Homo sapiens: one gene and its partner. The protein of the gene in region 2 purifies or fractionates together with the protein of the main gene of each other region. This does not show direct contact. Each region holds a gene or a part of one and is shown on either strand. Other genes may lie near its edges.

Evidence for each region. Proteins that work in one complex are often made in the same cells at the same time.
Region 1: the proteins of ACTR10 (region 2) and LMNB1 fractionate together in Homo sapiens (co-fractionation; one large-scale study listed by BioGRID). This does not show direct contact.

The regions. Positions count from the first base shown.
Region 1 is NC_000005.10:126,783,536-126,787,188, reverse strand, and holds part of LMNB1 (lamin-B1), read right to left. Parts: intron 1-3,653. UniProt on the Homo sapiens protein: Lamins are intermediate filament proteins that assemble into a filamentous meshwork, and which constitute the major components of the nuclear lamina, a fibrous layer on the nucleoplasmic side of the inner nuclear membrane.
Region 2 is NC_000014.9:58,206,602-58,210,254, reverse strand, and holds part of ACTR10 (actin-related protein 10), read right to left. Parts: intron 2,320-3,653; coding exon 2,237-2,319; intron 1,257-2,236; coding exon 1,148-1,256; intron 1-1,147. UniProt on the Homo sapiens protein: Part of the dynactin complex that activates the molecular motor dynein for ultra-processive transport along microtubules.

The sequences.
Region 1 (3,653 bases), on a different chromosome or scaffold from region 2:
TTAGTATACTGCACTTACAGTATCACAATCCTGTAGTGTTGGTTTTCTGTCTTCCCCACTAGACTGTAAGTAACTTGATAATGGGGACTGAGTATCCCATTTCTCTATTCCCAGCATCTGGTTCAAGACCTGGCATATAGTACCTGTTCCACAAAAATGTGTCTTGAATAAAGAATGAAAGAACACCCTGTCATGAGTATTAAAGATTTATTTAGAGGTTTTAATTTCTTTTAAATTATTAAGGCATGGAATAAAGTTGGAAAGTAGCTTTTTAAGAAGAGAAAAAAGATAAAAGCGATCTCTTTCAGTAATTCATCTTCACCTTTCTTTAGCAAATGAAGCCCTCAGTATTTCAAACAGCTGTTTCAACTACTGACCACTACCCTTCTGACAAATCCAAAATTACCTCCCTTGAAGGCTACAAACTATCAACGTGAAAAACATGCAACTAGTAGCATTTCCAAAAGTAGCACCCAAAGGGATCTGAAAATCAACTATCCTATCTGAGACTTCAAGTACCAACCACAGATAATGATGCTCTGTGAGCCTGCTACATGTCGGTAAACCAGAGTAATACCTGTAGAACACTGTTGTATGGATGAAATAAGGTTATGTATGTGAACACCCTATCACAATGCTAGAAGTCAGGCTACCATCCTTTCTAGCTTTCATTACTTGCTAAGTAATACCAGGCAAAATACTTAAACTCTCTGAGCCTGAAGTTTCCTTACTCATCAGCAGTTATCATGAGCTTAAAAGATAATGTCTGGCCGGGAACGGTGGCTCACGCCTGTAATCCCAGCACTCTGGGAGGCCAAGGCAGGAGGATCACGAGGTCAGGAGATCGAGACCATCCTGGCTAACAGTGAAACCCCGTCTCTACTAAAAAATACAAAAAATTAGCCGGGCGTAGTGGCGGGCACCTGTAGTCCCAGCTACTTGGGAGGCTGAGGCAGGAGAATGGCGTGAACTCAAGAGATGGAGCCTGCAGTGAACCGAGATCGTGCCACTGCACTCCAGGACTCCAGCCTGGGCGACAGAGCCAGACTCTGCATCAAAAAAAAAAAAAAAAAAAAGATAATGTCTGTAAAGCATCTACTGTAATGCCTGGCAAACAGAATTGGCACAAAATAAATGTCAGCTTTTTTTTTTCCTGCATCTTTTCCCCCACCCCCCAAAGGGAGTCTTGCTTTGTCACTCAGGCTGGAGTGCAGTGGCACGATCTCGGCTCACTGCAACCTCTGCCTCCCAGGTTCAAGCAGTTCTCCTGCCTCAGCCTCCTAAGTAGCTAGAATTACAGGTGCCCACCACCATGCCCGGCTAATTTTTGTATTTTTAGTAGATACAGGGTTTTGCCATGTTGGCCAGGCTGGTCTCGAACTGCTGACCTCAGGTGATCCGCCCACCTCGGCCTCCAAAAGTGCTGGGATTGCAGGCATGAGCCGCTGGTCCCAACCTAAGGGTTGGGCCCAACCTAAGGCCCAACCAAGAATTTTCTTCTTGGTGTTTGTGTTTTCTCCTTTTCTATAATGAATATACATTTGCTGTTTAAAAAATTTAATTTTTGGCCTGGCACCGTGGCTCACACCTGTAATCCTAGCACTTTGGGAGGCTGAGGCAGGCAGATATTGCCTGAGCTCAGGAGTTCAAGACAAGCCTGGGCAACCTGGTGAAACCTCGTCTCTACTAAAATACAAAAAAAAAAAAAGAAAAAGAAAAAGAAAAAAAAAATTAGCCGACGTGGTGGCGTGTGCCTGTAGTCCCAGCTAATCAGGAGGCTGAGGCAGGAGAATTGCTTGAACACGGGAGGCAGAGGCTGTAGTGAGCTGAGATCGTGCCACTGCACTCCAGCCTGGCGACAGAGCAAGACTCAGTTATTAAAAAAAAAAAAAATTAATTTTTAGGCAGGGCACCGTGGCTCACACCTGTAATCCCAGCACTTTGGGAGGCCAAGGCGGGCGGATCACGAGGTCAGGAGATCGAGATGATCCTGGCCGACATGGTGAAACCCCGTTTCTACTAGAAATTAAAAAAAAAAAAAATTAGCCGGGCATGGTGGCGGGTGCCTGTAATCCCAGATATTTGGGAGGCTGAGGCGGCAGAATCACTTGAACCCGGGAGGCAGAGATTGCAGTGAGCCAAGGTTGTGCCACTGCACTCCAGCCTGGTGACACAGCAAGACTCCGTCTCAAAAATAATAATAATAAAATTAATTTTTAAAAATTCGGGCGGAGGGCAGTGGCTTACGCCTGTAATCCCAGCACTTTGGGAGGCTGAGGCGGGCGGATCACGAGGTCAGGAGATCGAGCCCATCCCGGCTAACACGGTGAAACCCAGCCTCTACTAAAAATATAAAAAAAAATTAGCCCGGCGTGGTGGAGGGCGCCTGTAGTTCCAGTTACTCAGGAGGCTGAGTGAGGCAGGAGAATGGCGTGAACCCGGGAGGTGGAGCTTGCAGTGAGCCGAGATGGCGCCACTGCACTCCAGCCTGGGCGACAGAGCAAAACTCCGTCTCAAAAAAAAAAAAAAATTCAAGCCAGGCACGGTGGCTCACGCCTGTAATCCCAGCACTTTGGGAGGCCGAGGCGGGTGGATCACGAGGTCAGGAGCTCAAGACCAGCCTGGGCAAGATGGTGAAACCCCATCTCTACTAAAAATACAAAAAATTAGCCGGGCGTGGTGGCACGTGCCTGTAATCCCAGCTACTCCGGAGGCTGAGGCAGAGAATTGCTTAAACCTGGAGGGGCGGAGGTTGCAGTGAGCCGAGATCGCACCACTGCACTCCAGCCTGGGCGACACAGCGAGACCCTGCCTCAAAAAAATAAAATAAAATAAAATAATAAAAATTCAAATGACAGCCGGCCAGGTGCGGTGGCTCACGCCTGTAATCCCCGCACTTTGGGAGGCCAAGGCGGGCGGATCATCCAAGGTTGGGAATTCCAGACCAGCCTGACCAACATGGAAAAACCCCAAGTCTATTAAAAAAAAAATACAAAATCAGCCGGGTGTAGTGGCGCATGCCTGTAATCCCAGCTACTTGGGAGGCTGAGGCAGGAGAATTGCTTGAACCCGGGAGGCGGAGGTTGCAGTGAGCTGAGATCGCACCACTGTACTCCAGCCTGGGCAACGAGAGCAAAACTCTGTCTCAAAAAAAAAAAAAAAAAAAAAAAAAAATCAAATGACAGCCAAAGCACAATCTCCTTATCAAAGAGGTACACTGTAAAAAGGGTTTAAAACTGATTTTAAAAACTTCCCTGATCCTAAAAATAATGGGACCTATACAGGGTCCCATTACTCAACTGATACCTGAGGCTCATTCTCAACATTTGTACATGAAAGAGACTTACACTAATGGCATAAAAAAAAAGTCTGAAGATTTCTAACTCAGACATATCAGAGGTGACACCATCTATACAAACGAAAGAATAAATATAACCAGCAACTGTGTAAAGACACAAAAAAGAAAAGACCCACCATATTTTAATAGTGCTTTATCTTTCATTCTGCCTGTTTACTTCCTTGAATCTGGGTATGCAAAATATTACCTAGTCTCATCCCCTAAGTTAAATAAACAACTCCAAAAGATCTTGCTTTATCAAACATCTTTTGAAAGCATGGGAAGGAAATGTCATGACAGTTTAATTACTTGGGAC
Region 2 (3,653 bases):
AACCTGGTGCCATCTCAAATACTAGATATTCAATCAAAATATGACAGTCCATCATAATCGAATGGCAGACAAAATAATGGCTGTATTCCCCTTATCTAAATAAAGTAGGTATTCTAGTCATATAGAAGATATTAACACAAACTCTAATTATAAATACAGAGAATATTCTACTTTATTCAGATAACAGCTGACACGACTTCTTGTTTTGCTTTATGTTCTCCTTACTACAAATGAAATTCCTGGACTCATGACATCAGTAGGTACTGGAGGCTATGCAACCTGATTCCCTGTACCTGCTTTACAAAAATATAACTTAGAAATATTAAGTGCCTTTACCTCATAAAGACATTGTGATTTTTGGTATTAGGTATGTTTTGAATTCAGTAAATGTATGAAAATACATTTATATGTGCTTAATTTCTTATTCACTTAATACATATAATCTTACATTTTCCCTTGCTGATAAAACCTAAATTTTAAGGCAAAGATTTTTAAAAATTTGAATAATTAAGATTCTGGTCTACTATGAAATATACTAATCTTAAAACATATTCTTGGTGATAAAATAATCCTGATTCCTATAAAATCAAAGCTACAGGTAATATTACTTATATTATGAGGTAAGTCTCATTCCTGGCATTACCAACTTACTCTAAGGGAGGCACTGAATATTCCATTTTAAAGGAATTTGAAGCCTAAAATGACAAAATTCAGAACAGTACAACTAAACAATGGAAGCTAGAAAGATCTGGAAGAAATACATTGCAAAGTCCACAGCACAGAATATACCTTTTAATTCTGAATAAAAAAAAGTCCCCAAATAGAAAAACCTATATTAAAATAAATAAACAGTAATAAAAAGAAATATCCAATTATGTAAGTGTTGGATGAAATGCTAAAGCATGAAATAACCACACAAAGGAAGAAAATAAATGGCCAGTTTGAAGAATCTTCTGTCATCTGGTTCCCCAACTACACTGTGTGCCATACACAATATGAGACAAAATAAGGGCTTTTATTAGTTTAAGTTTTGAGTACCTACCAACAAAAAAAAAGAGAAGAAAGATTCCCTAAAAATTGGTAAGAATTTTATTGCTTCTCTTTTTATTTCAAAAGCAATTTACTTATTTGATATAAAGACAGGTACCTCAAAATATTTGAAAAGAACACGAGTGAGTGTCTCTCTGAAGTGAGAAGGACATAATACCGATTCGATAATCACAACTCGGCGGTCTCTGGGATTCACCAATAGATGCCTGAAAAGTGAAAGTTTTGGTTTTAAAAGTAAAAGTTTTTATTCATTTTGTTAAGTCATACAATTTAAGAACAGTGAAACTGTACTACCTTAGCTTAAGATATTTTATCACAAAAAGACATCTTCATTTTATTACCCCAGAAAGATAACATTTCTGACCTCTTACTATGTACCGTGCAGTGTGCTAGGAAATTCATTAACTTACTTATCTCAGAAACCTAAAATTATAGCCTACTATGATTACCAACTTGAGCCATTATATAGATTTTTTTTTTTTTTTTGAGACAGGATCTGGCTCTGTTGCCCAAGTTGGAGTGCAGAGGGGCAATCTCACCTCACTGCAACCTCAGCCTCCTGGGTTCAAGCCATCCCCTGATCTCAACCTCCTGAGTAGCTGGTACTACAGATGTGAGCCACAGCACCTGGCGATATTTTCTTTTTTTTTAGGTTACAATAGTAATATATGCTCACAAAGCTCCAAATATTATGACACGTAAAACTTGCAAAGTACAAGAACCTTATATCTCTACTACTCAGAACTATCACTGATAGAAGTTTGTATTTTTTTTCATTCTTATGGATGTATGGGGGTATGTTTTAACAGAAATACTCATTCCATAGATGTGGTTCTTTAACTTGCTTATTTCACTTATCAATATATCCCACACACCTTCCTGTACTACTACATACAGATGCAGAACTCTTTTTAAAGAGCTGCATGGTATTTCACTGTATGAATGTAGAATAATTTAATTATCAGTTCACTTCATTAATGAATATTTCATTTTCAGTATCTCTTTATGTCTGCCAGTTTTCTAGTCTTCAAATATATTTTTGAAAAGGTTGAAAATAAGCATGTAAAAATGGCAATAGAAGTCCATTTTTTTTTTTTTTGGCCTCAGCTGTAACACAACCAATTATCACTATGGCATTAGGAAAATCTATCTAATCATAAAAGCTAGAAAACAAAATGTATCTTACCTGAAATATAGTATGTGGATGAATTCCTTTAGGTAGGAATATAATTCTTCTGTATTGATATTATACTGAACAACTCTGACAGGCTGTAAAAAATTAAAATGATTTATTAATTTATATTAATAAAATAACCTCAAATTAAGATTAAAATGTAATTATTTACTAATACATTTTCTGGGAATAAATTAAAAGCAATCTGTATTGAGAATATAAAAATTAAATACAGAGTAATCTCTTAAATTAGGAATCCTTAAGAATCGGAATGTCTAAGATGGCAGAATGTTTTAGTCTGTGGTAATGGAAGTGTGTGTTCATAGGAAGTAAAGAGCATGGCTCACATGCATTTTTCCTCCATCTGACTTATCATTTTGGCTTGAATGATAAAAATCAGCTTTGAGGCCAGGTGTGGTGGCTCATGCCTGTAATCCCAGCACTTTGGGAGGCCGAGGTGGATGGATCACTTGAGGTCAGGAGTTCGAGACCAGGCTGGCCAACATGGTGAAACGCTGTCTCTACTTAAAATACAAAAATTAGCCAGGCGTGGTGGTGTGTGCCTATAGTCCCAGCTACTCTGGAGACTGAGGCAGGAGAATCACTTGAAAACCCTGGAGGAGGCTGCAGTGAGCTGAGATGGCTCCACTGCTCTCTAGCCTGGGCAACAGAACCAGATTCCGTCTCAAAAAACAAACAAACAAACAAACAAACAAATTTCCAGCACTTTGGGAGGCCGAGGCAGGTGGATCACCTGAAGCTAGGAGTTCAAGACCAGCCTGGCCAACATGGTGAAACCCTATCTCTACTAAAAATACAAAAATTAGCTAGGCGTGGTGGCGTGCACCTGTAGTCCCAGCTACTCAGGAGGCTGAAGTGGGAGAACTGCTTGAACCCAGGAGGTGGAGGTTGCAGGGAGGCAGAGGTTGCAGTGAGCCAAGATCGTGCCACTGCACTCCAGCCTGGGTGACAGAGTGAGAACCTGTCTCAAAAAAAAAAAAAAAAAAAAATTCAGCATTGAATAAAAAGCATCAAAGGCTTCCTCAAATACTCAACTTGGTTCAGTCCCTGTTAGTCCAAAAACACTGATATCTTCTCTTTTGCAACATCGCCACACTGAATTACTTGTAAAATGTCCCCCTTTCTGCTAGATTATAAGCTCTATGCACAAGAACTATTTCTGGCTTGCTTATGATATATCTTTCTTCAAATAATACAGTTCCAGGTACATAGTTGTGGTTGTTCATAAATATGTGTGATAAAAATGACAACAAACACCATTAGCACAAAAGCAGCCTACACACATATTACCAAGCCATGAGTGCTAAGTCAATGCTAATATATAACAATGGCTTCACTTATGATCCTCAGAAAGCTCTCAGTACTCTGATGCATCATTGGCAGACCTCTCTTCATTTACTCTTTCAAA